7 linked regions of the Homo sapiens genome follow. The protein of the gene in region 2 purifies or fractionates together with the protein of the main gene of each other region. This does not show direct contact. Each region holds a gene or a part of one and is shown on either strand. Other genes may lie near its edges. The genes, in order: GFM2, BPNT1, TBC1D9B, REXO5, ACAD10, NUDT19 and CHDH.

The links.
Region 1: the proteins of BPNT1 (region 2) and GFM2 purify together in Homo sapiens (affinity purification with mass spectrometry; 2 studies listed by BioGRID and IntAct, with this or other methods). This does not show direct contact.
Region 3: the proteins of BPNT1 (region 2) and TBC1D9B purify together in Homo sapiens (affinity purification with mass spectrometry; 2 studies listed by BioGRID and IntAct, with this or other methods). This does not show direct contact.
Region 4: the proteins of BPNT1 (region 2) and REXO5 purify together in Homo sapiens (affinity purification with mass spectrometry; 2 studies listed by BioGRID and IntAct, with this or other methods). This does not show direct contact.
Region 5: the proteins of BPNT1 (region 2) and ACAD10 purify together in Homo sapiens (affinity purification with mass spectrometry; 2 studies listed by BioGRID and IntAct, with this or other methods). This does not show direct contact.
Region 6: the proteins of BPNT1 (region 2) and NUDT19 purify together in Homo sapiens (affinity purification with mass spectrometry; 2 studies listed by BioGRID and IntAct, with this or other methods). This does not show direct contact.
Region 7: the proteins of BPNT1 (region 2) and CHDH purify together in Homo sapiens (affinity purification with mass spectrometry; 2 studies listed by BioGRID and IntAct, with this or other methods). This does not show direct contact.

Annotation. Positions count from the first base shown.
Region 1 is NC_000005.10:74,735,866-74,739,900, reverse strand, and holds part of GFM2 (ribosome-releasing factor 2, mitochondrial), read left to right. Parts: intron 1-1,258; coding exon 1,259-1,399; intron 1,400-1,483; coding exon 1,484-1,583; intron 1,584-2,915; coding exon 2,916-3,105; coding exon of another isoform or gene 3,106-3,137; exon of another isoform or gene 3,138-3,557; intron 3,558-4,035.
Region 2 is NC_000001.11:220,086,866-220,091,583, reverse strand, and holds the start of BPNT1 (3'(2'),5'-bisphosphate nucleotidase 1), read left to right. Parts: upstream 1-1,795; 5' UTR 1,796-1,898; exon of another isoform or gene 1,899-1,940; intron 1,941-4,718. UniProt on the Homo sapiens protein: Phosphatase that converts 3'(2')-phosphoadenosine 5'-phosphate (PAP) to AMP and inositol 1,4-bisphosphate (Ins(1,4)P2) to inositol 4-phosphate. Is also able to hydrolyze adenosine 3'-phosphate 5'-phosphosulfate (PAPS) to adenosine 5'-phosphosulfate (APS).
Region 3 is NC_000005.10:179,872,948-179,876,982, reverse strand, and holds part of TBC1D9B (TBC1 domain family member 9B), read left to right. Parts: intron 1-945; coding exon 946-1,063; intron 1,064-1,795; coding exon 1,796-2,081; intron 2,082-3,734; coding exon 3,735-3,864; intron 3,865-3,992; coding exon 3,993-4,035. UniProt on the Homo sapiens protein: May act as a GTPase-activating protein for Rab family protein(s).
Region 4 is NC_000016.10:20,844,381-20,847,734, forward strand, and holds part of REXO5 (RNA exonuclease 5), read left to right. Parts: intron 1-248; coding exon 249-465; intron 466-673; coding exon 674-861; intron 862-1,840; coding exon 1,841-1,959; intron 1,960-3,354.
Region 5 is NC_000012.12:111,692,205-111,696,239, reverse strand, and holds part of ACAD10 (acyl-CoA dehydrogenase family member 10), read right to left. Parts: intron 3,544-4,035; 5' UTR 3,531-3,543; coding exon 3,344-3,530; intron 1-3,343.
Region 6 is NC_000019.10:32,690,203-32,695,036, reverse strand, and holds the start of NUDT19 (acyl-coenzyme A diphosphatase NUDT19 precursor), read right to left. Parts: upstream 3,217-4,834; 5' UTR 3,077-3,216; coding exon 2,363-3,076; intron 2,073-2,362; exon of another isoform or gene 943-2,072; intron 1-942. UniProt on the Homo sapiens protein: Fatty acyl-coenzyme A (CoA) diphosphatase that hydrolyzes fatty acyl-CoA to yield acyl-4'-phosphopantetheine and adenosine 3',5'-bisphosphate.
Region 7 is NC_000003.12:53,843,085-53,847,864, forward strand, and holds the start of CHDH (choline dehydrogenase, mitochondrial), read right to left. Parts: upstream 3,336-4,780; 5' UTR 2,999-3,335; intron 1-2,998. Other genes in the region: IL17RB (interleukin-17 receptor B precursor), read left to right, coding at 3,505-3,564.

The sequences.
Region 1 (4,035 bases), on a different chromosome or scaffold from region 2:
TTTTGAATAATAGTGGTGAGTGTTATTGCAAATGATGTAATAAGGAATCATAGTAATTTTTGCTTGAAAGGAACATTTTTCATCTCTTGTAAAAAGAGATGTCTTACACATAGAGCTAAGAGGTATGTCTTTTCACTGTGTAAAAGTGTAAGTGTTGACCCTGCCATCTTAGTCTTAGAAAAGTGATATCCTGGGGATGTTTGTTAAATATTCTATAGTTATATTCATCTGGATTTCAGGATTTTTCATAAGCTCAAAATATTTTGTGGCTATAAAGAAAGGTCATTGTTTTACTCCTATTGTCACTAAAAGCTTTGTACTTAAGTAATAAGTCCTTTAAAATCTGAGTAAGCAATGTGTAAAATGGCAGAGAAATGGACTTTAATTATCTTAATCCTGACATTAATAACTTTTCATATCTCTAAATTGGAGAGGCATGATGGTGAAGAGCACAGGCTTTGTACTATTGGATTTAAATCCTAGCTTTTCCAAGTTCCTTAACATCTCATCTATAAAATGCAAAGAATAGGACCTATCTCATGGTGTTCTTATAAGAATTAAATGATTAGTAAAGCACAAAGAACAGTGCCTGGTATAGTAAGCTCTATATTAGTATGTATTAAAGTTAAAAATTGGAGGGAATGGGAATAAGATTGGAGAAGTTCTGTCATAGAAGTGTTTAAACTACTTTAAGTCAGGAATTCCTTTGAAACTAATGAAAATATGGAGCTCTCCTTAGATGCGCAAAATTTGGCAATTGCAGGAGAACTCAATTCTAAAACTTACCAGTGATTACCAGTTTAAGAACATCATTCTGTTAAGAGTGTTGGTTATGTGAACAATTTCAAGTTTATAGTATAGATTTTTATGGTTATGTAATGGACAGAAAGTGGAAGGAGAGCGTAAAAGCAGTAATTGGAAAGTACCTATTTATTTACCCTGTGCAGATTTCTTGATAAGTAGTGTGATATTCCCAGGTATAGCCTTCATGGGGAGAGCTCTTGGCAATGAAATTATTCACAAATAGAAGTAATATTTGGAAGAGAATCTGTTATTTTTAGTTTTGAGGAATTAATGGTAAGATCTCCATTGAGTAATTTAGTCAATGGAAGAAGAGAGTTACGTAACAAAGACATTATTTAGTGGCTCTAAGTAGCTCTACTAGAAGATAAAATAGATCTTTGGGGACATTAAGGTTAAGTTTCTGCAGTTATGGGAAGTGTATTTTATAGGCCTTTTTGGAATGTTTATTTTATAGGCAGTGGTATAAGGATGACTTATGTGCATTGGCATTTAAAGTTCTCCATGACAAGCAGCGAGGACCACTGGTTTTTATGCGCATTTACTCAGGCACTATAAAACCCCAGTTGGCCATTCATAATATTAATGGAAACTGCACGTAAGTAGAAGCTTAGATTATTTTATAAAACTGTATGCACTTCTTTAAAAATACTTTTACTAACATAAAATTGTGATTTTACAGGGAGAGAATAAGTCGTCTGCTTTTGCCGTTTGCTGACCAACATGTAGAAATCCCTTCATTGACTGCTGGTAACATTGCTTTGACTGTTGGGCTTAAACATGTAAGTGACCAAATGATTTCTCTAGGAAATAACAGCTTAAATATTTAATTACAAGTAAGCAACTTGTAATATCAAAAACCCATAAACAATCCAAATGTCCATCAATAGTAGAATAAAGAATATTATGGCATATTTGTCAACATGGCTGAATCTCATACATTTACTAGGAAGAAAAGTAGATTACGGAAGACCACAGACGGGATGGATTGTATTCATATAAAGTTCAAATCCAAGTAAAATAACATACTGTTTATGGATATATATGTATATACATATATGTGTGTTTTAAGTTTATATAAAATATTGTTTTGTTCCCATTGGGTTTATTCCTATCTTGAGCATTGCAAAAAATTTAACCTAGACTTATAACTGATCAGGTTATAATGTTTTGTTAGTAAAGCCTCCATGAGAGCAAGGATTTTTGTCTTTTTTGTTCAATGCCCTACAGTCCATAGATCAGTGTTTGCATATAGTAGACACTCCATAGATAATTGTAGGATGAATCGATGAAAATACTTGATGTTGTATTTATTTTTCATGGGTTAAAACTAAGGATATTTCATTTATATGGATTAAATCAAATATTTTCTCATTGACCTTTATGTAGTAAGCATTGTTATTTTAAACATTTTAACTCTTCATGACTAGTTTCAAGTTTGAAGATCCTTCAGTAGAAAATTCCTATAGGCTGGTCACTGGACTTCTGGCATTGGAATGTCCCCTCTATCTCCCTGAAGGCAGGAGCTCCTTGTATGTATTTGAAGAAGCTCTACAAATACATTGGGACTATTGCTTCAGTAGGATTGTTTTTACAGAGAAGGAAACTGGCACAGAACTTCACAATATAAAAGTTTAGAAGTGAAATTACAGTTTTTAAAAGATAATTGGGCTCTACATGGAAGCCAGCAATCTGCACAGTTAAGGGTATTCTGGTTAATTATATATTTTAGTTAATAGGAGATTTTCTGTAAAAAAGGAATAAATTCTTATGGGTGGTAGAACACTCTAATGGACTTCTCCCTAACCTGTCTTGTCATGATTGAAAATTTAGGAAGGTACATTTGTTTTGCCAAATGATTTTGGATGTGTATGTGTGTGTGTTTTATTGTTTGTTAGAATTTATTACAACAGTATTTTGGATAGAATTCTTATGCAAGTTAAATTAGCTTTACTTATGCAAAGTTATTAATGAGCTTTTTGAATTTTATTTCTCTTTTAAGTTCTGATGAAAAGAAAGGGCCACAAAAAAGTTTTCTTATATTGTGGTTCTTGGTGTAAGATGAGCGCTTGCTAAATGCCACTTTCGTTCCAAGTCATCTTGTTTGCTTGCAGACTGCCACTGGAGACACCATTGTCTCATCCAAGTCCAGTGCATTAGCTGCAGCTCGTAGAGCCGAACGGGAGGGAGAAAAGAAGCACAGACAAAACAATGAAGCAGAGAGACTTTTATTGGCTGGAGTGGAGATTCCAGAACCTGTTTTCTTCTGTACCATAGAACCCCCATCACTGTCTAAGCAGCCAGGTATAAATGGTCTTAGTGTGTCAACTAATTAGTGCGCTGATAATTTATATAAAATAGTTGCAATATACCCTCAAGAGATTTCTTATGTGATTGAGGTAAATTTTATCTGAATATATTGGTAAACATTTCTTGTGGTTGGTCTTGTTTTTTAAGATGTTTTGATTTTTACAAATGCCTTCATTTTTTTCTCTTCTTATTTCTTGGCCATTCTTCTCATATTATATTCTTCCTTACTCTTGTAGTGCTATCTATGGGATTCTAAGTAATTGGCCTTAGAACTGCCCTTCTAGTATATTAGATTAGACAGTAACTGATTCATAACCAATTCAGTTTGTCATCATCATGTATAAAAATGCTGTTTTACCTTGTTTTCTACCTCAACCTCTAGAACTCAATGAAGATATTTATATACTGTGGATAATCTTGTTTGACCTTTTGTTAGTAACTTTGTTCTTTAGCATTTTAGCTCAGATTTTTTTCAGTGGCTTCTCATTACTTCTAGCACACACCCAAACTCTTTAGTGTGGTATGTAAAACCCATGATTCCAATTATAATTTCCAATTAGATTTGGTTACATATAGCAGAAAACCCCCAAATAACAATTGCTTTAATAGGACAAAAATTTATTTCTCTCTATCTCCTAACAGAAGCCTTGAATTGGTAGTCAGGGATTAGAGTGGCTCCACAATGTTATCAGGGATCCAGGCTCTAATCTTTTTGTCCTGCCTGAGTGCATAGCTCCTGGAGCCTTGGGCATCACCTTGGAGTTCCTGACAACAGAAAGGAGTAAGGGGAAGGAAGAAGATAATACCCCTTTTCTCTTAAGATTTCTTCTATGTCATTGGCCAGCACTGAGACATATGGCAGCCTGTTGCAAGGAAGTCTGGTAAAAGCAGCCTTTTAAGTAGGCAGCAGCAGAGTAGAGTGGA
Region 2 (4,718 bases):
TCTTTGACCCACGGTTTCACATCTGGGATCTATCACAGCTATAGTCTTCCAGGAGCACAAAGATATATTTACATAGAAACTCTCCTAACCAACCTCTACATAACTTGCTGAATTCAACTATGCCGTTTTCTCGTAAAACCTATGAGAGGATACAATGAACACTTGGGAGATGGCTACTCTTTAGGATGACTGCAGATTTCTATTCTCACTTGTTGAGCTTACCTTGCATTATGTTTGTCTTTATTTAAGCCATTTGTACTTGTCATGTAATTATACAATTTAATTATAAAAACCAAAGTATGGCCAGGTGCAGTGGCTCATGCCTGTAATCTCAGCACTTTGGGAGGCCGAGGCGGGCGGATCATGAGGTCAGGAGTTCGAGACCAGCCTGGCCAACATGGTGAAACCCCGTCTTTACTAAAAAAAAAAAAAATGCAAAAACTAGCTGGGCTGGGTGGTGTGCGCCTGTAGTCCCAGTTACTCAGGAGGCTGAAGCAGGAGAATAGCTTGAACCCTGGGAGGCAGAGGTTGCAGTGAGCCGAGATCAAGCCATTGCACTCCAGCCTGGGCGACAGAGTAAGACGCCGTCTCAAAAAATATATATATGTATATATGTGTGTGTGTGTGTGTGTGTATATATATATATATATATATATATATATATATATATATGGTTAAAGTAATATAATTTAAGTTATGTATATTTTTCCACTTCCCAAAAAGGGTCTACTTAACTCACAGAGTTATTGTGAAAATCAAATGAAGACGTAAAAGCCTTTTTAAGCTGGGCGCAGTGGCTCACACCTGTAATCCCAGCACTTTGGGAGGCCGAGGTGAGCAGATCACCTGGGGTCAGGAGTTCAAGACCAGCCTGGCCAATATGATGAAACCCCGTCTCTACTTAAAAAACAAACAAAATTAGCCCGGCGTGGTGGCGCGCCTGTAGTCCTAGCTACTTGGGAGGCTAAGGAGGAAGGATCGCTTGAACCCAGGAGGAGGAGGTTGTAGTGAACCTAGACTGCGCCACTGCACTCCAGCCTGGGCGACAGGATGAGACACTGCCCCCTTCCCCAACCACGCCCCCCAGTAAAAGATCCCATCTGTACACAAAAAATATTTTAATTAGCTGGGTGTGGTGGCGCGCACCTCCACCAGTAGTCCCAGCTACACGGAAGGCTGAGGCGGGAGGATGGCTTGAGCCTAGAAGTGGGAAGGCAGCAGTGAGCCGTAATCGACTCTGGGCGACAGAGCAAGCTATCTATCGCTTAAAAAAAAAAAAAAAAAAAAAAAAAAAAAGGTAAGCAAGCATCTTTGACACAATTCTGCATAAAGTTGCTGTGTTATTGCGTGGGGAGTGGGAGGTGGAGGTGTGTGTGGTGGACCTGCTGAAGCCTGTCCACGGACCGCTAGGGGTTCGAAGTTAAATAGCCGCAGAGTGGTATCACTAATACAAAGAACATTTTAAAACAGTGAACTCTACGAAGTGGGCTGGAAGACAGCTGAAACCAAAACCAATCTTTTTTTTGTTTCAACACACTGTTGCTGGCTTAATGTGTTCTTTCCTTCTTCTTTTTCTTTTTTTAGCCAATCTTTGAAAGTTGACACATCTTTCGCTTTTATTTAATGCAACAGGTGACTTGCACCTACGGAGAGCTTGGAGAAAACACGGACAAGTGGAATTTTCCCGCGGATCAGGAGTCTAAAGAGGCAGTGTGAAATCGCTGTTGTGCGCTTGCGCGCAGTTTCCCGCATGCTCAGTAGCTGAGGTAGGGATGCCATCCTTCTCAAAAGACTTATTGACAGTGCCAAAGCTCGGTACTGGACACAACGAGGGACCTGGGTCTACGATAACGCGCTTTTGCTCCTCCTGAAGTGTCTTTGGTCCAACGTTGTTCCAGGTTTGTCACCGTTTCTCTCCGGCCGGTCAGGGCAAGAGCCAGGTAGATAGGATTTATGTTAAAAAAATAAAACGAAAAAGGTTTATGTGAATCAGATTGCTTCTCCAGATATTCTAACTTCCGACTTGGACTCTTGAGTGTCGATATTTTAATTGTTTATCTGTGCTTTTATTTTCGTGATCCGGAAGGTTTTTATAGCCATATACTGTAGAAACAAGACAAACCTAGACATTGAGTTTGTTGATGCACCCAAATTTAGAAACTGCTTGGTACCTAAAATTAAATTTCTTTAAACAGCAAATATTCTTCCAACTGCCATTTCTACATATTTATAGGTTTGCGTGATTTATTTGGATTTCTCTGTAAATATAATTGTTGGTTCAAAAGATACGTACTTTATACTTTTATTAAGGTTCTCAAAACTCTCCTAAGAGGGTTCACCGCTTTGCCAACAATGCTCAGGAACATGTTCCCTCACACCCTTGCAAACTGGACAAAGGACAAACTCTTCTTCTTTCTTCTTTTTTCTTCTTCTTCTTCCTCCTCCTTCCTCCTCCTTCTTTTTTTTTTTTTTTTTTTTTTTTCGAGACGGAGTCTCGCTCTGTCGCCCAGGCTTGAGTGCAGTGGTGCAATCTCGGCTCACTGCAAGCTCCACCTCCCAGGTTCACGCCATTCTCCTGCCTCAGCCTCCCGAGTAGCTGGGACTACAGGCGCCCACCACCAAGCCTGGCTAATTTTTTTTGTATTTTTAGTAGAGACGGGGTTTCACCGTGTTAGTCAGGATGGTTTCGATCTCCTGACCTCGTGATCTGCCCGTCTCGGCCTCCCAAAGTGCTGGGATTACAGGCGTGAGCCACCGCGCCCAGCCTTTCTTTCTTTCTTTTTTTTTTTTTTTTAAGACAGGTTCTAGCTCTGTCCCCCAGGCTGGAGTACAGTGGTGCCATTATGTCTCACTGCAACCTTGACCTCCCAGGGTCTGGTGATTCTCCCACCTCAGCCTCCCGAGCAGCTGGGACTACAGGCATGTGCCACCACACCATCTAATTTTTGCATTTTTTTGTAGAGACGAGGTTTTGCCATGTTGCCCAGGCTGGTCTCGAACTCCTGAGCTCAAGCAATACACCAGCCTTGGCCTCCCAAAAAGTTCTAGGATTACGGGTGTGAGCCACTGCATTCAGCGACAATTTTTTTTTTTTTTTTTTTTTTTGAGTCGGAGTCTCTGTCGCCCAGGCTGGACTGCAGTGGCGCGATCTCGGCTCACCACAACCTCTGCCTCCTATGTTCAAGCAATTTTCCTGCCTCAGCCTCCTGAGTAATTTTTGTATTACTATGCCTGGTTAATTTTTGTATTTTTAGTAGAGATGGGGTTTCACCATGTTGGCCAGGCTAGTCTTGAACTCCTAACTTCAGGTGATTCACCTGCCTTGGCCTCCCAAAGTGCTGGGATTACAGGTGTGAGCCACCGTGCCCTGCCAAATTTTCTTTTCTATGCCAATCTTAAAAATAAACAATCATGGCCCGGCGCGGTGGCTCACGCCTGTAATCCTAGCACTTTGGGAGGCTTAGGCAGGCCATGAGGTCGGAAGTTCGAGACCAGCCTGACCAACATGGAGAAACCCTGTCTCTACTAAAAATACAAAATTAGCCAGGTGTGGAGATGCTTGCCTGTAATCCCAGCTACTCGGGAGGCTGAGGCAGGAGAATCGCTTAAACCCGGGAGGCAGAGGTTGCGGTGAGCCAAGATCTCGCCATTGCACTCCAGCCTGGGCAACAAGAGCAAAAACTCTGTCTCAAAAAATAAATAAATTAATTAATTAATTAAAAATAAAATAATCATTTCTCATTGTTTTAGTTTGCATTTCTTTCATAATTAGTGAAGCTGAGTATTTATGTATTTAATGGCCAGTGCTTTTCTCTTTGTAGGTGTTGCCCGTTCTTGTTTATTTGCTCATTTTTCTATTGGATTATTCAGCTTTTATATACTGATCTTTTACAAATTAAGTCATTTGTCTGGTATGTGATACAATATTTTTTTCTCATTTTGTCAAGTACCTGTTTATTTAGTTTATGGTATTTTGGCCATGTAGAAGTTTTAATTTTATTTTTATTTATTGATTGATTGATTTTGAGACGGAATCTCGCTCTGTCACCCAGGCTGGAGTGCAATGGTGCAAATGATCTCAGCTCACTGCAACTTCTACCTCCCAGGTTCAAGCAATTCTCCTGCCTCAGCCTCCTGAGTAGCTGGGATTACAGGCGCGTGCCACCAAGCCCGGCTAATTTTTGTATTTTTAGTAGAGACAGGGTTTCACCAAGTTGGTCAGGCTGGTCTTGAACTCCTGACCTCGTCATCCGCCCGACTTGGCCTCCCGAAGTGCTGGGATTACAGGCCACCGCGCCCAGCAACTCTTAGTTTTATAGAGTCAAATTTATCAATAGAATATTTTATGGATTCTTGGTTTTATGCTTAAAGGGCATTTACCAAGCTTATGAAGTTTATAATTTTTATTTCCATGCTTTTATGGTTTCTTTTTTTACTTTTATAAACCATGCATTGAAATGTATTTATATCAAAATGTATTTATATCAAAATATCAAAAGAATGCAAAAAGGACTCAACTTTTTTTTTTTTTTTTTTTGAGACGGAGTCTTGCTCTGTCGCCCAGGCTGGAGTGCAGTGGCACCATCTCGGCTCACTGCAACCTCCGCCTCCCAAGTTCGAGCAATTCTCCTGCCTCAGCCTCCCAAGAAGTTGGGGTTACAGGCGCCCGCCAATATGCCCGGCTCATTTTTTTTTTTTTTTAAGTTTAGCAACTCAGG
Region 3 (4,035 bases), on a different chromosome or scaffold from region 2:
CCTCCCACTTCAGCCTCCTGGGTAGCTGGAACTACAGGTACACACCACCACGCCCAGTTACTTTTTGTATTTTTTATAGAGATGGGGTCTCACTGTGTGGCCCAGGCTGGTCTTGAACTCCTGGGCTCAAGTGATCCGACCTCCTCAGCCTCCTAAAGTGCTAGGATTACAAAGTGTGAGCTACTGTGGCCTGGCCTATTTTTAATTTTTTGAGGAACTCCATACTTCCTCCCCAGCAGCTGCACCATTTTATATTCCCACCAGCAGTTCACAAGGGTTCCGATTTCTCCACATCCTCATCAACACTTGCTATATTCTGTTGTTGTTAGAGTGATGGGCATGAGGGTATCTAATTGTACTTTAGGTTAGCATTTCTCGCAGCTTTTGATTTTAAATCTAGGCATTTTCCTGGCCAAGTCATATGGCTTTCTGTTTGCCTTAAAGGTCTTGTTAGCAGCTAGGGCTGTGTGTGGTCCTAGTTGTGCACCGAGTGGGTGGCCTTGGTGTGGGGCTCTGGCCTTGTGGCTCACCTCCACATCAGCTTGGTCATAATCCCACCTCCAACACCCAACACCACTCCGCAGAAGTGTGATGTGTTGATGTTCACCTTCTCTGGTTTCCCAGTGCCTTCTGACCCAGTTTGAAGGAGTTGGCAGACTCTCTGTTCCATCAGTTTCCTACAAATTGCCTTTTGACATTTCCCAGAGTTGGGTAGGGGCAGTTTCTCATTACCGGATGCCCAGCCCTCCTGAAGAGGCAGATTTGCTTGTAGGAGGAGGCCATTAATCTTCACCACGAGAACCTGAAAAATAATAAAAATAACAACAACAAAAAGAAGATCATGTGGGCCCTTGCAGGGAGGGGTGGCTGGGAGGGGTGGGGAGAGACAGTTTTATTTGCTGGCCAGCAGTGCAAGCCTTCCCCGGCTGTCTCTGTGCCCGGCAGGCAATGAACATCGTGACCTCGGTGCTCCTGCTCTATGGCAGTGAGGAGGAGGCCTTCTGGCTCCTGGTGGCCCTGTGCGAGCGCATGCTGCCCGACTACTACAACACCAGGGTGGTGGGTGAGTGTCCCCGGGTGCTGCCTCGCCTGGGTCTCCAGGTGCCTGCTGGTTCCATGAGGGTGGCAGCCCTTCCCAGGCCAAGCTCCAGGCTTCACGTGGGTTCCCTAGGAGTTAGAGGGTAGTATTACACATTCGGTGGTTTATAAAAGTCCCCTCAGAGCCTAAATTCCTATCCATCTAACTTCCTGTCAACTTTTTGATTATGGAAAATTTCAAACATCAAAACTAGAGAGTATATATCCCCCATGTAACCTGATGCTCAACTTTACTGAACTCATATCCAGTGAAATCTGTTATGAAGTGGAAATGGACTTGCAAGAGTGTTTAATTAGGTTCATATTTAAGCATGTTATCCTGTCCTTCCCCTGCTGTCTGGTGTTTGGAGTTACCGCTCTTGGGGTCCTTCAGAGCTGCGTCTATTCACAATCATCAGGATGGGACAGAGTCATTGAGGGTGCTGTTTACCTCTCATGCCTTACGGAGAAATCAGTATTTCCCCAAAATAAAATTCAAGTGTAGTAGAAGAAATAGTTATTTCGCCCAGTGGTTTGGGAGCTGTAGAGAGACTTGAAGGGTTTTTTCGTCCTTGTTTTCTCCCAGCACTCCAAGTCTCCCTCAGCCCTCACTGCACAGCTGGCAGGGCTGGAGTGGCCAGGGCTCGTACGCTGCAGGTGAGGGCCCACCCAGGCCACAGGGTGGGCTCACCATCAGCCTCGCTCATCCTGCCCGCAGGAGCCCTGGTGGACCAAGGCATCTTCGAAGAGCTCACGAGAGACTTCCTGCCGCAGCTCTCGGAGAAGATGCAGGACCTGGGGGTGATCTCCAGCATCTCGCTGTCCTGGTTCCTGACCCTCTTCCTCAGCGTCATGCCCTTCGAGAGCGCCGTGGTCATCGTCGACTGCTTTTTCTATGAGGGCATCAAGGTGATCCTGCAGGTGGCCCTGGCCGTCCTGGACGCCAACATGGAGCAGCTGCTGGGCTGCAGCGACGAGGGCGAGGCCATGACCATGCTGGGCAGGTGACATGCCGGGTTCCTTCTCCTGCTGGGGGCTCACAGCAGAACCCCTCACCAGCCCCGGGCACTGTCCAGTCAGCCTGAAGTGACTGTGCCCACCAAGTGCCAGGCTGCAGCTGGACCCGGGGGTGCTCTGGGGTCAGGAGGCGGCTCCTTTCTAGTGGGAGATGAAGCAGCGCTCAGTGATAGGTGCCAGGAGGAGTAAAGCAGGCACTGCGGGCAGAGCATGCTGGCTGGAGGGCCACCGCTCAGATGTAGGGTTGGAGATGCTTCCCCTGAGGGCAAACCAGAGCCAAGATCCAGTGACCACAATTCCAGTTGGTGGCACAGCTGGGCATTTCATGTCCACCAGGTGGTCCCGGTCATACCTCTCCAAGCTCAGCTGCATTGCAGCCCCCATGCCCTGGAGGGAGCAGGCCTGCCCTGGGCCCGCTGGAACAGCTGGATGAGCTGATGTCCCACTAGTCACGCCAAATGTCCAGGGTCATCCCAGCCCCTCCACCCCCTCCTTAGTCCCCACATCCCATCTCTTGCAGATTCTGTCTGGGATCCAGCCCCTTCCCTTCAGCCTGCTGCCTCAGCCCAGGCCCACCATGCCCTTTCCCTGGGGTTCCCCTCTCAGTCTTTGACCTGCCTGCATCCCATGACTCTGATCAGACCTGGCCCTGCCCCTTCCCTGGGTCCTCTGTACAAAGGCACTGTCTGAGCCTCCAGCCTGGCCTTCAAGCCCCGGCCCCTCCTGGCTACACTCTGCCCTGCCCTGAGCTCTGTGCAGTCCCACCCTCCTACATAGCGTATTTGTCCGGACTGGAATGCCCCCAGCCCCCAGGAACAGCCTGGGACTCTGCCACTTGCCCATGGCCAGGCCAGGTGCTGCCTGGGACTCTCTAGATCCAGCAGGGTTGTCACCTCCCTACTGTGGGCCTAAGTAGCTTTTGGTCCACACTGATGTTAAGATACTCAGCCTGTGGCCGGAGTCTGTGGCTGGTTTTCCTGCCGCTTCCTACAATAGGCGGATAGGGCCTCCTCCAGAGCAGGGGTCTGACTGGGGATATGACCAGGGCTATGGGCATGGGGAGTCAGCTACCTCCTCCCACCTGAGTGTCAGGCTCAGCCCAGGGACCCAGAGAGGCCATGAACTCTGGCGGGGCTAGGTCAGCTGACAGAGGTAGGGCTCCATCCCCAGGACTGTGTCCCTAGAGAAGCTGATTCCCTGGGCTGCAGCAGGCCTCCCCACACCTGACTTTCTCCTGCGACTCAACCTTTGATCCCTGAATCTTCTTGGCCAGGGCGAGAAGGTCCCACATCCCCAGGGCCCCGCCAAAGGGAGGAAGCTCGTCATCCTTCCAACTGGGTAGGATCTGGGGTTATAAGGCGTTCCTGCCCAAGGGACCCCCCCACTGACTAAGAAAACAGCCCAGCGTCCTCAGGGTTAGTGCTCAGGCCTTGTCGGGGGCACTGCCCTGTAGAGGGCTCCCCAACTTGCTGGGGGCGCTGCCAGGGCACACCTCTGCCCTCCTGCAGGGTGCCCAGTCCTCTGCACACTCCTTATTAGGAGTCTGCATAAAGATTGGGTCCCTCCGCATCACCCAGCTGTGGGAAGGAGGCTCCCTCTGCCTGGGCGTGGTCTGGACTGTTGTCCTCTGTCCTTTGCAGATACCTGGATAATGTGGTCAACAAGCAGAGTGTCTCTCCTCCTATCCCGCACCTCCGTGCCTTGCTGAGCAGCAGCGATGACCCCCCTGCAGAGGTGGACATCTTTGAGCTCCTGAAAGTGTCCTATGAGGTCAGCACCCAGTGGGGCCATTTTGGCCAGGCCGCTCCATCTGGCATGTGGGTTGGGGTGGCTATGGGCAGGTGGTGGCCCTCTGCCCTGCAGTTGGCTTGATCTCACCAAGTCACCTCTCCCTATAGAAATTCAGCAGCCTGAGGGCCGAAGACATTGAGCAGATGCGGT
Region 4 (3,354 bases), on a different chromosome or scaffold from region 2:
CATTAAGGGTGGGAGGCAGGAAACTGAAGAGAATATGTTTACATGAAAATATGTATTTATCAATTAAGTCTCTAACATAATTCTGTGAGGCCATTATCTTTAGTTTCCTTTTACAGAAAAGAAAAGAAACGGAAAATTTTAGGAAACTGAAAAATGAAGTTATTAGTAATGGCAACAACTTGCTAGTATCCAATAGGCCTGAGGATTAAATTGATTTTCTACCACTAACACCAACTTTCCTTGGTTAGGTGCAGAGGCCTGTGACAGAGCTCACGCTTGATTGTGACACCCTCGTGAATGAGCTGGAAGGAGATTCTGAAAACCAAGGCTCTATATATCTGTCTGGAGTGAGTGAAACCTTCAAAGAACAGCTATTGCAGGAGCCCCGCCTCTTTCTTGGCCTGGAAGCTGTGATCTTGCCTAAAGATCTTAAAAGTGGAAAGCAGAAAAAATACTGTTTCCTGAGTAAGTCTATGCTACTGAATGTAGCTTTGGGGAAGGAAACTGGGGATGGTGATAACATGAGGTCAGAGAAAGGAAGATTCACCTCCTGGGCTGGACCAGGGCAGCAGTTCCTGATTCTGTCCTTCTCCTTTGACCCTGGCCAGGCAGCTTGGATGGTGATCAGCTTTCTTGGCCCTTAATAACATAAGGTGGGGGTTCTTGCTTTCAGAATTCAAAAGTTTTGGCAGTGCCCAGCAGGCCCTCAACATTCTCACAGGCAAGGACTGGAAGCTGAAAGGCAGGCATGCCCTAACCCCCAGGCACCTCCATGCCTGGCTCAGAGGCTTACCACCTGAATCAACAAGGCTCCCAGGGCTTCGTGTTGTACCTCCCCCCTTTGAACAGGAGGCCTTGCAGGTGAGTGAGTGAAGGCGTCTTGGAGAAGATGTCAGGAGAGTCCTGCTCAGTGACACTTAATCCTTTAATCTTTTTTTTTTTTCTACCCTGGCCCTCAGTCTTATTTCACTCTCCAGCTTCCTCCAGTCCTGGCCACATCTTTTCTCGCAGATCTCTCATACTTTTGCCCCCACCATACCTGCTAAACTTAGTTTTTTAGTCTTCCAGATCTCCAAGGGACTTTGAAGGACAAAGGCAGGAAGTCAGAGAGCTGGACAATTATTCAGTGATCTAGTCTAGGGTTTCCCAAAGTGTGGTATATACACAAGATAAATTGTGGTTGTCATAGATGGTCTTTTCTTTTTTGTTTTCACTTTTATGATTATGGACTTGTCCGTCTTTTTATTATATCTAAGACATCTGAATGGACTTGTTTTGCTAATACTTGTTAAAGTATACAATAACTACATTGAGCCTATGATTTTGTGGATGGCATTAGTTAGACAAGGCTAAGGAAGAAATTAACTCACTTTATGGAAAAATGTTAGAGGGATATACAAGCAGAAGAGTGGAGGTAGAAGGTAAATGGCTGAAGCTTGGGAAACCCTGTCTTAGTCTAATCTCTCATACTTAACAGATGAAAAGTAGGGGCTAGAGTTGGTAAGTCACTTGCCCAAGGTCACAAAGAGACTTAATGGCAGAAGCCAGACTAGACCCCTCATCAGCAATGTGGCTCCCCTAGCTTGGGGTCTTGGAAGACCCATGTGGAGGAAAGGACAGTAGCTGTCCTCCCCTGAGGAAGTCCTTAGCCAACTTGGAGGCCTGGGGATGCTGGGTCAGCAGAGAACCTGCAGTGTGGGCTCCAGTGTTAGAAAAGGGATTTGTCTGGAACCTTTACTGGAATCCCATAGCCTTAGAGGCAGAGGAAGAGTGTTGCAGCCCTTCCAAAGGTAACGAGAGAGTGTTCTGGCTGAGTATCGACACATGGCTTTGATCCCAGACTCTGAAACTGGACCACCCGAAGATAGCAGCCTGGCGCTGGAGCCGGAAGATTGGAAAGCTCTACAACAGCTTGTGCCCGGGCACTCTCTGCCTCATCCTGCTGCCAGGAACCAAGAGGTAAGGACTAGAAAGGGTATCCCTTCAGGACTCTGTCCCCTGGATTTCAGCTGTTCTTAGAGAAAAAGCCTTTTGCTGATATTTAGGCACATAGTGAGGACTTACATGAATCATCTCTTTAATTTTCACCGTTCTAAAAGATAGGCATTGTATTCCCATTTCACATTTATATGCTCTTGTATAACTACATTTATTGGTCCCTCAAGGAGATAATTTATCCCCAGTTAAAACCAGGAGTCTTATGTCCTTACTGCTCTCTGGAGTAAGAAGTAGCTGCTAACCCCACTTGAGTAAAAAAAGTAAAGTCTCAGAACAAGCCCTAGGCTTAGGTGTAACCACTCTACATGTGAGGAATGTGTTCCTGCCTTCTGTACCCTTTTCCCCATTGACACCTATGTTTTAAGAGATAACAGGGCCTGGTTTGCTGATTCTAAGCCTGAGGAATACTGGAGCAGGACTTTGAGTCTAGTTGCAGCTTTATCACCTATCTCCTCTGACAAGTGGCCAAGCTACTTCCCCACTGTAGGTCTCAATGTCCTTTTAGTAACATGAGGGATTTGGAATAAATCAGTTGATTTTCAAACCCTTTTAACTGTAAACCCTTTCTTTAAAGAAAAACTGATATTAAATCTTAAAGCATAAAGATGGGCAGTTTTGGAATGAGTGAGTGGGCAGCTAAATGAATGAGTGTATATTGGGGAAGGGAGGGAAAGATGGTGGCTTTTTTGAACAGTGTGAAAACCTTGGGTTGTGTTAATTTTTAAAAGTCCCTTGAGATTCTGACATCTGGTTAGGCGCAGTGGCTCATGCCTATAATCCTAGCACTTTAGAAGGCCAAGGTGAGCGGAGCACTTGAGCTCAGGAGTTCAAGACCAGACTAGGCAACATGACAAGACCCTGTCTCTACCAAAAACACACACACAAAAAAAAAAACAAAAAAAAAAAACCCAGCCAGGTTTGGTGTTGTGTGCCTGTGGTCCCAACTACTTGGGAGGCTGAGGCACGAGAATCACTTGAACCCAGGGGGCAGAGGTTGCAGTGAGCTGAGATTGCACCACTGCACTCCAGCCTGGGCTACAGAGTAAGACTCTTATCTCAAAAAAAAAAAAAAAAAAAGATTCTTACATTCTAGGAGTTGACAGAGCATGAATACCTCTGGCCTTGAAGGTGGATCAGAAGAAATTCATTTCCTAGCATAAAGTTCTTATAACATGCATCTGAGGACCATTAGGGAGATGGTCTACCTACTGGGCACCTTTGAAAGAACCGCTTTCTCTGAAAAGCAGAAACAAGTATTAGGTGCTTACATTGAGGGGAAAAAAAATCTTAGACCAACATACTTTAAACAGGCTTGTGGGTAAGCTAACAGGAACAGGTTAAAAAGTGACCACAAGT
Region 5 (4,035 bases), on a different chromosome or scaffold from region 2:
CTCTATAAAAAACAAAAATTAGGCATAGTGGCAAACACCTGTAGTCCCAGCTACTTGGGAGCCTGAGGCAGGATTGCTTGAGCCCAGGAGTTTCAGGCTGCAGTGAGCCATGATTGTACCACTGCACTCCAGCCTAAGAAACAGAGCGCGATCCCATCTCAAGAAAAAAAAAAATAGTATAGTACAGTAATTCTAGTGTATATATATATATACTTTTTTTTTTTTTGAGACAGAGTCTTGCTCTGTCTCCCAAGCTGCAGCGCAATGGTATGATCTCAGCTCACTGCAACCTCTGTTTCCCGGGTTCAAGTGGTTCTCCCTGCTCAGCCTCCAGAGTAGCTGCAATTTCAGGTGCCCATCACCATGCCCCGCTTATTTTTGAATTTTTAGTAGAGATTGGATTTTGCCATGTTGGCCAGGCTGGTCTCAAACTCATGACCTCAAGTGATCCGCCCATCTCGTCCTCCCAAAGTGCTGAGATTAAAGGCATGAGCCACCGCACCTGGCCAATTCTAGTATATTCTTATCAAATGACCCTTGATATGGTTCATTTGAAATAAATAACATTAGAAGCTCCAGTCAAGCAAAAGACAAAGTAGAAGGCATCACTATTTTGTTCACATTTACCCATCAAACATTTCCTGAATGACTGAGCCAGCCTGCAGAGCTAACACTGCAACAGTGAAGTGAAGAAATCCCAGACCTGGGGTCCTGGAATCCAAGAGCCCCATAGAGGAGACATGAACATATCCCACTGCAAACAAAAATATCTCGGTGAAGGTGAAACTTAATGGGAATTGGCTATCCAGGAACATTCTGCCCAGGTTGCAAATGAGGTTGGAGAAGTCTTGACAGAAGAGGACTCTTGAAGTTAGTAACAACCATGAGATTTACTGAGTGTTCAAAAGATTCCAGTCATTGCTGAATAATATCCCCTTAAATTTGCCATTAAAAGCATCAGTAGGATTTGAACAGGCAGAGGAGGCAGGGAGGAAACACAGCTTGCAAAGGCACAAACATGCAAATGTGCCTGGCATGCCTGGGGAGCATCAGGTAGTCCATAGCAGGAAAGCTAAAACTGAGAGGAGCCCTGAATCCCAGGTGAAAGCTTCTAGACTTAATCTAGGGGACCACATGCAGGCATTCAAGATTTTCAAGCCAGGGATGAAAGGAACAAGATCTATGCTTTATTTTTATTTTATTTATTATTTTGTGACAGGGTCTCACTTTGTCACCCAGGCTGGAGTGCAGTGGTGCAATCTCAGCTCACTGCAGCCTCAATCGCCCAGGCTAAAGAGTTCCTCCCACCGCAGCCCCTCAAGTAGCTGGGACTACATCCATGCACCACCATGCCCAGGTACGCTTTTTGTATTTTTCGTAGAGACAAGGTTTCACCAGGTTGGCCAGGCTGGTCTTGAACTCCTGTGCTCAAGCGATCTGCCCACCTCGGCCTCCTAAATTGCTGAGATTACAGGTGTGAGCTGCTAAGCGCAGAAGCACGATCCATGTTTTAGAAAGGTTAATTCTGGAGCTGGGAGGAGATTTTGTAAAATCCAGAGAGCCAGAGGCAGAGGAAGTTAGGAGGCTGATGACATCATTTGGGTGAGAGAAGGCAAGGGTGGAGGCAGTGGCAATGGAGAGAAGTGAATTGGTTCTTAAGATATTCTAGAGAAAGTCAAGAAACTTTCTGTCCAGTGATCTTTATGTTCTTCCCTGCTGCCTTTTTTTTTAGAGACAGGTTCTCTAAAAAAGACTGTTGTGCCAGTCTGGGGTGCAGTGGTGCAATCCTAGCTCACCATAGGGTCTCACTGTGTTGCTCAGGTTTAGTCTTTATGTTCTTTGTAGAAGAACAGATTCAGCTATCTGCAGAGCAAGAATATTTGGGGGTGGTAAGGAGCAGGGGGAGTGGACAGTCTGGAACAGCCCCTGAGGTAAACATGACAGAGATACGAGTGAAGGAACAGAGAGATAAGAGTGAAGGAACAGAGAGGCTCAGGCGTAGCACCAATGGCCCAACTGAGGCTGGAGCTCAGAAACCAGCTTGTGCAGCCAGTTAGCACGGCTGAGTAATTTGGTCAGCAGTGCTGGAAAGCCTAGACACGCAGGCATAGAAAACCTGTGCCTGGGTTGATTTAGGATGGAGAACTGGCCAACCAGCCACCACAGAAGGTCAAAAGGAGAGGGATGGCTGCCTGGCCCTTTGTCCTTCCTGCTGGCTGGCATGAGAATATGATAGCAGGAGGCGACACAGCCAAGACAGACCACAATGTAAGAGTGGAAATGAAAAGTCACAGCAGAGCAACATGCTATAAAGAGTCGGAGTCCCTGATACCACAGAGTCGCATCACACAGTGCCCCAGACCACATACCTGGGCTTTTATGTGCAAGAGAAAGAAACTTCTAGCTTGTTTCAGTCACTGTTTTGTTAGGTTTTCTACTGCTTGAAGCCAAAACGACTTTAACTAATAAAAACTGAACTGAGTAGAAAAGAAGTAAAACCAGGAAGGGGCTGGTAAAGAGAAGACCAGAGACCAGAGGGCTGACCCTTACCCTGTCAGTCCAGAAGCAGGTTTAGAGGGAGTGGGGTAGAAGGGAGGAAGGCTGTAATCAAAAGGGGAATTTCAGCATTCTAGATTTCAGAAGTAGAACAGTTCCCAAGAAGAAGTGGTTAAATTCTTTGGGATTTTTGGTTGTTTGTTTTTGAGTAAGGGTCTTGCTCTGTTACCCAGGCTGGAGTGCAGTGGCATGATCACGGCTGACTACAGCCTCAACCACCTGGATTCATGTGATCCTCCGACCTCAGCCTCCTGAGTAGCTAGAACTACAGGTGCCTGTCATCATGCCCAGATAATTTTTAAATTTCTGCAGATACGGGGTCTCACTATGTTGCTCAGGCTGGTCTTGAACTCCTGGGCTCAAACGACCCTCTCACCTCGGCCTCCAAAAGTGCTGGGATTACAGGCTTCAGCCACTGTGCCCTGCCTTGGTGGTTAAATTCTAATCACAGCATTCATGGCAGCTCATCATTGATTGAGAATTTAGGATGCACTGAGCAATCACTGTGCTAAGCAAGTGCTTCCCACGGATAACTCTCCGCCAAATCCCAAGGAGGAAGGCACTACCATTAGCTCATTTAATGATGAGGAAAGTAAGATTTGGAGAAGCTGAATCATGCGCCCAAGACACTCAGCCCCCTAGTGGTGCTTGGAATTCGACTCGAGAGCCAGAGCATGGCCTGCTGGGACACACTGCTGCCCAAGTGTTCCCCTCTGCCTTCCCGATCACCCTCCATTCTCCCACCACCACTCTAGTCCCACAAAGTGAAACAGAATCAATAGCTCACCTGCAGCGACTCTCCCTGGAGAAGGAATGAGAACTCCGCCCATGTCGAAAATCACCGCTCTGTAGGTGCTGCCTCCAAGGTGTGTCCATCGGTGGGACCCCTGGTGCCTGCGCTGGGTGTGTTTCAGGAAGGCTGTTCTCCACACCCACTGGAGACGGGGGGACTGGAAACAGCTCCTGACACACATGGTGAGGCTGAGGCTGTGTGGGAAGAAGGCACAGGGCGTTACTTGCCTGCACTGCCTCCCAACCAGGCCTCCATCCTGGAGCTCAGAGGGGCCAGCCAGACATCTCTAACCCATCTCCAACAGGCACTTCGAATCACACCCACAACTGACCTCAGTGTCTCCTCCCTCCCTGGCTACTTAGTCAAGGGCTCCATCGCCCACTCGGCTGCCCAAGCTAGAAAGCTGGGACTCGCCTCTGACTTTCTGCAATCTCTACCTCACCTCGCCCTATCTAGTTCTGTGCTGTCAAGTCTTTCTCCTGAAAATCTCATCTACCTCTTTGCATTCTCACTGCCACCATCTTGCCCATGGATCCTAACTGGCCCCCTTGCCTCTTCTCAGACCTCTCTCCAATTCTTTCTTCACCCTCCAGTCAGAGTATTCTTTAAAAATTGTAAATCTGGGCCAGGTGTGGTGGCTCACTCCTGTAATCCCACCACTATGGGAGGCCAAGGCGGGTGGATCA
Region 6 (4,834 bases), on a different chromosome or scaffold from region 2:
TAACCCAGCAGGTTCCTAACAGGGGATCTAAATCTGAAGGTCTGACCAGACATAGGAGGAACCCCCTTCAGGACAGGATGATAGATGTTTCCTCCTGGGCGATTAAGGAAAAAGACACAATGGGTACTCAGTACGTGATAAGGAAACTCTTACAGAAGCAGAGTTAGGAAAATTGCCTAATAATTGGTCTGCTCAAATGTGCAAGCTGTTTGCACTCAGCCAAACCTTAAAGTACTTACAGAATCAGGAAGGAGCCATCTATACCAATTTTAAGTGAATATGGACTGAACGAGGTCTTATTAATAGCAAAGAATAATTGAAATCCCAAACTTAAGGTTTTCAACAAAAGTAAAGTTTGCTAAAAGTTAACAGTGTAACACATATTATCCTAACTTCTAATCTTATGGACATCAGACCCTATCAGTGCCCCTCAAAGCTCAAGTCCATCAGCACAGGGCCATACAACTGATACCCCTACTTATAGGGCTAGAAATGGCCACTGCTACAGGAACCGGAATAGCCAGTTTATCTACTTCATTATCTTACTACCACACACTCTCAAAGTATTTCTCAGACAGTTTGCAAGAAATAACAAAATCTATTCAGTAAGGATAGTAACTACAATCCCAAATAGACTCTGGCAGCAGTGACTCTCCAAAACCCCCGAGGCCTAGACCTCCTCACTGCTGAGAAAGGAGGACTTTGCACCTTAGGGGAAGAGTGTTGTTTTTACACTAACAAGTCAGGGATAGTGCAAGATGCCGCCCGGCATTTACAGGAAAAGGTTTCTGAAATCAGACAACGCCTTTCAAACTCTTATACCAACCTCTGGAGTTGGGCAACATGGCTTCTCCCCTTTCTACATCCTGTGACAGCCGTTTTACTATTACTCGCCTTCGGGCCCTGTATTTTTAACCTCCTTGTCAAATTTGTTTCCTCTAGAATCAAGGCCATCAAACTACAGATGGTCTTACAAACGGAAACCCAAATGAGCTCAACTAACAACTTCTACCGAGGACCCCTGGACCGACCCACTGGCCCTTTCACTGGCCTAGAGAGTTCCCCTCTGGAGGACACTACAACTGCAGGGCCCCTTCTTTGCCCCTGTCCAGCAGGAAGTAGCTAGAGCAGTCATTGCCCAATTCCCAACAGCAGATGGGGTGCCCTGTTTAGAGGCGGGATTGAGAGGTGAAGCCCCTGGACTTCCTGGGTCCAGTGGGGACTTGGAGAACTTTTCTGTCTAGCTAAAGATTTGTAAATGCACCAATCAGCACTCTGTAAAAACGCACCAATCAGTGCTCTGTGTCTAGCTAAAGGTTTGTAAATGCACCAATCAGTACTATGTAAAAACGCACCAATCAGTGCTCTGTCTAGCTAAAGATTTGTAAACGCACCAATCCGCACTCTGTAAAAATGGACCAATCAGCACTCTGCAAAATGGACCAATCAGCAGGACATGGGCAGGGCCAAATAAGGGAATAAAAGCTGGCCACCCAGCCACCAGCACCCAACCTGCTCTGATCCCCTTCCGCTGTGGGAGGTTTGTTCTTTTGCTCTTTGCAATAAATCTTGCTGCTGCTCACTCCTTGGGTCCGCACTACCTTTATAAGCTGTAACACTGACCACAAATGTCTGCAGCTTCGCTCCTGAAGCCAGCGAGACCACAAACCCACCAAGAGGAACAAACAACTCCTGACGCACCACCTTTAAGAGCTGTAACACTCACTGCGAAGGTCTGCGGCTTCAATCCTGAAGTCAGCGAGACCACGAACCTACCAGAAGGAAGAAACTCCAGACACATCTGAACATCTGAAGGAAGAAACTGGACACACCATCTTTAAGAACTGTAACACTCACTTCGAGGGTCCGCGGCTTTATTCTTAAAGTCAGCGAGACCAAGAACCCACTGGAAGGAACCAATTCTGGACACACCAGGAGCTGGAGACGAGCCTGGGTGTGCAACACAGAGAGACAAGACCCCCATCTGTACCAAAAATAAATAAAAATAGGAAGACTGGATCATATTAAGTCTGTTCTCCAAGAAAACCAAATTAAACGGCTGTGGAGATGTACTATGTCTACACATGTACAAGTGCTTACACAGTGGCCACGCTGGAGGAACCACGTGGAGAGACAGGCTCCAGGCCTTGAGACCCCAAAGCCTAGGAAAGCAGAGAGCACTTCACCAAGAGCATGGCTTTGGTCTACAGGGGTGAGAGTTTCCAGCCCGTCTAAGCGTTCCTTGCTGCTTAATCTCTCTGGGCTTGGCCTATGCGGGGGTCCCTTGGGGGCCTGGGCCGCTGGGAGGGGTCCTCCCTCTCACGTCCTGGCGGTCCGCAGCAAGGCCCTGAGCAGGCCTTACCTGGTAGCCCACCACCTCCGCCAAGTCGGGGTAGACGGGCGGCGGCTCGCGCAGGCAGCACAGGAAGAAGGCCGTGTCAAAGCGGCGAGTGGTGCCCCGCAAGAAAGGGGTGAGCCAGGCGCTCCAGTTGTGCAGCGCCCAGATGTCGGGTGTGCAGTCGAGGTGGGCGCACAGCCGCAGGAAGTGGCGCGGGTCCTGGCGCACGCGGTCGCGCCAGGAGGCCAGGCCCGGCGGTGGCTCCAGGGCGAGGCCAGGCCCGGGTGCTGGGCCTGGTGGGGAAGTCCTGGGCCGCAGCAGCAGCACGCCCGCCTCCTCAAAGGCCTCCCGCACGGCGCAGATGCGGAAGGCTACGTCCTCAGGCAGCGTCCCAGTGTTGTCGGTCTTGTGGTCATCGGTGTCGGGCAGCGACGGGAAAGCGGTGCGGCTGAATGGCGCCGGGCCCAGGCCGAAGCGCGGCGGCCCGTGGTGCGGCGCGAAGAGGCCCAGCCAGTCCGCCGAGCGGTCGGCCGCATCCAGCACTCCGCCGGAGAAGACGTGCGCGCCCGGCATGAAGCCTTGGTGCGGGGAGCGCTGCAGCAGCAGCAGCCGGAAGCCCTCGGCCGGCGGCGGGCGCGACGGCGGGGTGGCGGTCTCCGGGCGCGACCAGCCAGCCGCCAGGACGATGCTGGCCGCCCGCCGCCAGCGGCTGGGGCCCGGCCGCAGGGAGCTGCTCATGGCGCGCAGCTTCCCGGATCCGATTCTGGCGCGGCCTGAGCTCCACGGCAGGTGGCCCGGCCCTGCAGGGACCCCAGCACCTCCGGGGGCCTCGCGGGAATTGAGGACGAGCCTCTGGCGTTGGGTGAACCTGGGCGTTTGGTCGGCAACGGCGCCTGCCTGTGGGAGGGGCACCCGAGCAGGGACCGCCTCGAGTGCACTGGGGCCCAGCTAGGGCACTCTCGCGGGACAATGGGTGTCACGGCAGCCAGCGACCGTTTGTCATTCACAGCTGCCTGAAAGGAGGACCGCAGTATTCCCACGCAGGAAGCTTGGACCAAAAGCAGGAATGCTTAAGGGCGCATATGACTTGCCATGGTAAAAAACAGGATGCCAACCCAGGCCTGATGACATCCACCTCACTAAAAGCTAAGGACTAGGACTTTCTGCTTTAAACAAGGACCCACATGTGGGTGTTTTCTGTGGGAGAGGGAGAGAGGACATTCGAAGGGCAGAAGTCTGACCTTTGCAAGCACACGTGAACCACACCAATGAGAAATGAATGGACGAGCCAGATGCCAATTTATAAATTTCCTACTGCACACCTTGAATGTGAAAGGTACTCCCAGAGTAATTTCTCTCGTGTTCTGGTTACCTTTTATTGTCAGGGCGCCTGGGGACGGCCTTAGGTGTCTTAGGACATTTGACGAGTTCCACTTTGATGGGAGATGTTTAATCTGGGCCTCCACATGGAGATTTCTCTCCACCTTGTTAGTGTCTAGAAGACTTCCACCTCCAATAGCAGGATTATGATCTTTTGAAAAGCCTGTGTAAATTTGAGTCTTTTCTTTTATAACTCCTTATCAGTCACCGACAGCTTTTCCCATAATTGCTATTATAATTGGATCACACATTTGTTATGTTTTTGGATGAAATACACTATACCCCTGCCGACCCTCACAAACCATCATTTTAATGTGGGTTATTTCCTGGGTAGAATCCACAGATGACATTGTCAATATTTAGGGGTTTTGTTTGTTTTTTTGTTTGAAGAGACCTGGTCTCTGGCCAGGCGCTGTGGCTTACACCTGTAATCCCAGCACTTTGGGAGGCCGAGGTGGTCGGATCACCTGAGGCCAGGACTTCAAGACCAGCATGGCCAACATGGCAAAACCCCGCCTCTACTAAAAATACAAAAATTAGCTGGGTGTGGCGGCCCGCGCCTATAGTTGCAGCTACTCAGGAGGCTGAGGCAGGAGAATCACTTGAATCTGGGTGGAGGTTGCTGTGAGCCAAGATCCTGCCACTGCATTCCGGCATGGGTGACAGAGCGAGACTCTGTCTCAAAAAAATAAATAAATAAATAAAATAAAAATACAGAGCAATGGAGAGAAAGGCACTCAGGTGATTAAAGTAACATGTCTTCAATACTAGGAGTAATAATAATCCTAGGGGATAATAATATTAGTAGTTACTGGGTACAGTGTGTGAGGCACTAGGAACTTTATTAGTATTAGTTGTGTAATTCTTACAAAACCCCATGAAGTGGAAACAGTTACCACTATTTTACAGATGACTAACCATTTATGGAGGGATTAAGGGTCTTAAGAACATACTACTCCCTTTGCTGTAAAATAACACCGTGGTTTTGTAGGTGAATGTGTGTGTTTCAACATCAGCTGGTTTTCACAGAAGCTGGTTACTCATGAGTGAGATGACCAAGTCCTGGTCCTGGGTGCATAGCAAAACAACAGAAACTGAACCTTTTTTTTTTTTGAG
Region 7 (4,780 bases), on a different chromosome or scaffold from region 2:
TTCTCCCAGGGATGGATCAGGCAAAGAAGCAAAGGTCGGAATAACAATGACAGAATCTGGGGATTACCGTGACTCTTGGGTCCTAGGGAATTTCCCCCCCCACCTTTTTTTTTTTTTTTTGGTTCTGCCTCTCCTGCCCCTAAATTTACACAGCACTCTTAAATCCTTCAACTTGCTTTCCTATCTGCTGTTTTGCTGTTTCTTCTGCGTTTCCTAACAGCCCTGCTGGGGAGGCAGAACTGATGTCAGCCCCATGTTACAGATGGAGAAACAGGTTCCAAAAGACTAAGAGCCTCACTCAAGGCCAACAGATGGTGAATGAGCCGCAGAACCAGGTGGTCTGGAAGCCAGGCATCTCACCGCGCTGTGGCTGCACAGAGTCTGTGCAGACCCTAGGGTCTGGGTCAGGGCCATAGGTACTTGACCCAGTGATCTTCCAGGCTCTGGCAGAGGCCCTGACCTTTGCTCTGCTTGTGAAGAAAGAGGAGGAAGTTCAAACCAGCTCCCCTGGGTGGGCAGGCTCAGGCACTGGCCTTGGATGAAGGTAGGTGTTAATTTATTCATCCATTCAAGCATTTAATGAGCACCCCCTACAAAGCCCCCCCGGACAGGAAGGCACACTGGCTGGTAGCTCTTTCAGAAACCCAGACCTAGCAGAATTTATGACTGAAGGGAGAAGGTCAGAAAATGTCCAAAGGTCGCTTCTCTCATAGACTCAAATCACTTCATCGCCCCTATCACCACCCCATTTTACAGAAAAGGAAACTGCTCTGAGAAGAGCAGTGACTTGCCAGAGCCTCCAGTTCAAAAAGCCACAAAGTCATCAGGCTTAGGCAGCCAAATAAATTGTGTGCCTTCCGGCAGGCCACCTGGGACCTCTCATGCAGGGCCACTTGAGGCATGGCCTTCTGAGCTAGGGGGGAAAACCCCCGAGGGGACAGGCAGACACACCTGTTTGCCCACCTCAACCTCCAGTTGTGGCTACAGGGCCCTTCACACCCTCTCCTCCACTCCACAGCCCCAACTACGAAACTGAACCAGGTATCACCCCATCCCTAAGCCCCAGGGGGCCAGGGCAGTGTCATTCTGAACCCAGAACAGCAGGAAAGCCACTTGGCCTGGGTCTTGGGTCTCTGCCTGGCAGCCCCTGCCTGAGTACTCCTCCTTCTTACAGCTCAGCCACCTCCAGACCACCCTCACCTGACACTTCTTCCCCTGGGGGGAGAAAGAACCTCAGCCCTTCTCTTTTTACAAAACCCCCTCCCCTATCCTTTTGCCAAGGCTTCCTGTGACTGCCACCAACCAGCCTCAGTGCCCTTGGTCTCTCTGCCCCATCTGACCCCATGAGCTCCTCCCTCACTACTGGGCTTTCCTGCTGCAGCCCCTTAGACCTCCCCACCTCCTCAGGCAAGCTCTCCTCCCCAGGGCTCTATCCTCCTCTCCTCTCCACTGCCCCCTGAGAAAGTCTGACTCATGAACCCTGTCTCCAGGCCTAACCTCCGCACCCTGGTTGTCTCAAAGCCTGTGTGCCGAACAACACCAAGCTCACAGCAGGGCCTGCCCTGGCACACAACTGAAAAGCCAGCACAGCCCAGAGCCTGGCCCACAGCACAGAATCAGATACTCACGGAATGAACGCATGTTAGTGAATGGCTGCCTGCTCGCTCGTCTCAGAGGGACTAGCCCTCTATTTTGCCCTGCAGAGCCAACCAGGTGGCCTTTCTAAAACCAAAAATGGATGACCATTTAAGCCTGTACCATTGTTCCTCAGCACCATGGGACAAAGTTCACAATCTTGAGCTTGCAGACGAGGCTGTTTTCATCTGGGCTTCCGCAGCAAGGCGGGTACTTGTGTCCTTGAAAATAATTCTCACTGCACTCATCCTCACTCCAGGAGTACCCATCAGCCAGCACCCATGTGTGGTTCACCTTTGCACCCAGCAGGTATTTGCTGAACAGGAAGATGACTATTAGAGCTGAAAATGTTCTCAAGGGCCACAGGGCCCAAAGCAACTCAGAGAGGTGGAATGAGGGGCTCAGGGTGGCCCAGTCCCAGGCAGGGGTGCGGCCACAACCTCAACTGAGTTCCTTGGTCAGGAAACAGAGCAATTCTCTGAAAATGCTACCTGCAACTCCACACGTATGCATGCCAGAGCCCAAACCCCTGGCTGATCCCCAGTCCATGCAAGCCTTAATCAAGCTGGCAGGTGGGCCAGGCCTGGCACACAAGTAGGGCCTCAGCTAAAACAGCTGCTTGACTTAGTACAGCCTCTCACCAGCTGACAACACACCCCTAAGTTCCATACCCCTCTCTAGGCCTCCGTCTTCTCATCTGTAGAATGGAGCTAATTCTGCCTACAAGTTTAAATGGCCCTGAGTTGGTCACCACAACCCTGTCGTTTGCAAACCGAGGGGGCTGAAGCAGCAGTTCCAGCCTCTGTGACTCCACTGTTAGCCCAGCTGATTTTTGTGAACTTTCCCCCAAACCCACTGTGTCTCAAAGGATGGTCCCTGGGCCACCCACCCACGAATTACGGGGGCGTGGGTGGAGGCTCGTTAAATGCAGATCCCGGGCCTGACCCGGACCTGCCGTCTGGATCTCATTTTAGGCGGCGCTAGAGATCCCGGGCCAGGGAAACTTGAGAACCGCAGCTCCAAATCGCCAGTGCTGACGGCTTCCGCTTTGGGAGCCCCAGGTGTTGCTGTCCGAACTCACTTGGTGGAAACAGACATTTACCAGAAAGCCTGGGGTCGGGCAGCGGGCACTCCTACCGCTCTAACCCCGCGTAGCTGAAAGAATTCGCTCCCTCAAAGGAGTCAGTGAGCTTCGGCAGTCTGCGTTCCACCCGTTTCGCTTCGCGCGGCGGGGCGATTGTGTAAAGCGGGCCCGGGTCTCGGCGTCCAGCCCGGCCCCAAACCTCCGGCCCCCAGGCCTCTCCGGGCTAGCGGCCGGGCGGCGCTGCTGCGGGGTGGTCGGGGCGCCTCCGCGGCTACTCACCCGGGGCGACTCGGCCGAGAGCCCGACAGTCGGGACCGGAGCGGGAGGAGCGGGTGGCCGCGGCCCGGCCCCTGCCCCGCGGCACTTTAACCGGCGGCGCCGGCGCCCCGCGCGCTCTCTGCGTCCGGAATGGGGACGCAGCAGTTCCGACCCGGTCGGCCCCGGAGCCGCGAGGCTAGCTGGGCTCCAGCGGAGGCGCGCGAAGCCCGAGGGCGGGTGCAGCTGATGCACCTGGCTCACTGCATGCACGTGTGCGCGGGGGTAGGCGCGCGCCGCGGCGGCCCGTGCTCCGCCAGCGCTCGGACACGGCCCATCCCTCCGAGCCCCAGCAGGCGAGGGCGCTGCGACCTGCCCCAGCCTGGGAGGGGGCCAGCGGGCCCGCCCTCTGTTCGGGTGGCGGGAATGGGTCGGCGCTGCGAGAGGCGGAGCCGAGAAGGGGCGGCCCGGCGGCGCCGGGATAAAAGCGCAGCGTGCGGGTGGCCTGGATCCCGCGCAGTGGCCCGGCGATGTCGCTCGTGCTGCTAAGCCTGGCCGCGCTGTGCAGGAGCGCCGTACCCCGAGAGCCGGTAAGCCCCCGCCAGCACCTCTTCCCTCATCTCCCGGCCCTCGAGCCCAGATCCTGACGTCGTCTGATCCGCCAGTCCAGGCTGCCCCGAAGGCGTGCGCGGACTGCCGGCTCAAGGGGCATGCCTGCACCCTCAGGGCAGCCCCGGACATCGGCGTCAGGTTGCTTGAGTCAGGGGCGTGGGAATCAGACAGACCCGGTCTCAGATGCCACCCTGTACTGTTGGTTCTGTCATTTATGCTCACCAAGTTCCAAGTCCCGAACGGTAAAACGAAGGGCAGTACCGAACCCACCAGGGTCTCTTAAGGTATAACGACATGGCCTGCAATTAGCGGCGAAGGGCCTGGCACGTAGTTATTGTTACTTGGGGTCTGCTCACCTGTTGGGGCACAAGAACTGTTTCTCCATTAGTACCCCCTCCCTTTTTGGCCATATTGATTGCCATGTTCACTCGTGAAGGCAGTTGCCTTTCTTCCCCAGTACCCTGAATGATCGAGGGAATCTTCTGGGTCACTGAAGAGAAAATAGCTCATCCCCCAAATAACCTTTGAAATGATACCGCTGCCCTCTTAGAATAGCATATAGCATCAAGCTCCGTAGTCACCTGCTGGTGGACAAACCCCATTCACTGTTTCCTGATGTCTTCAGCTCCTATCCTTCCCCTCTGTGTCAGTTCAGAAGCCCTCTTGGCTCTTTGCACTAAAGGGAAGAATTCATCCCTTTTGCTGTAGTTGCTGCAAGGCCAACAATTTGAGCTTGGTAGCATTTAGGGTTGTTGCTTGGCCTCTCACCGGCCGTTTGATAAGAACTCAGCTCCTGGTATGATGGCTCATTTGTTAAAAAAAAAAAAAAAAAGTCAAGTCTGGCCGGGCTCGGTGGCTCACGCCTGTAATCCCAGCACTTTGGGAGGCTGAGGCGGCCGGATTGCCTGAGGTCAGGAGTTTGGGAACAGCCTGGCTAACATGGTGAAACCCCGTCTCTACTAAAAATACAAAAAGTAGCCGGGCATGGTGGCAGGCGCCTGTAATCCCAGCTACTCCGGAGGCTGAGGCAGGAGAATCACTTGAACCCGGGAGCCAGAGGTTGCAGTGAGCCGAGATCTGCGCCACTGTACTCCAGCCTGGGTGACAAAGTGAGACTCTGTCTCAGAAAAAGGAAAAAAAAATCTGATGATATCCCTTAGAGTTCATTTTTTAAAAGACAAATAAATGATTGAC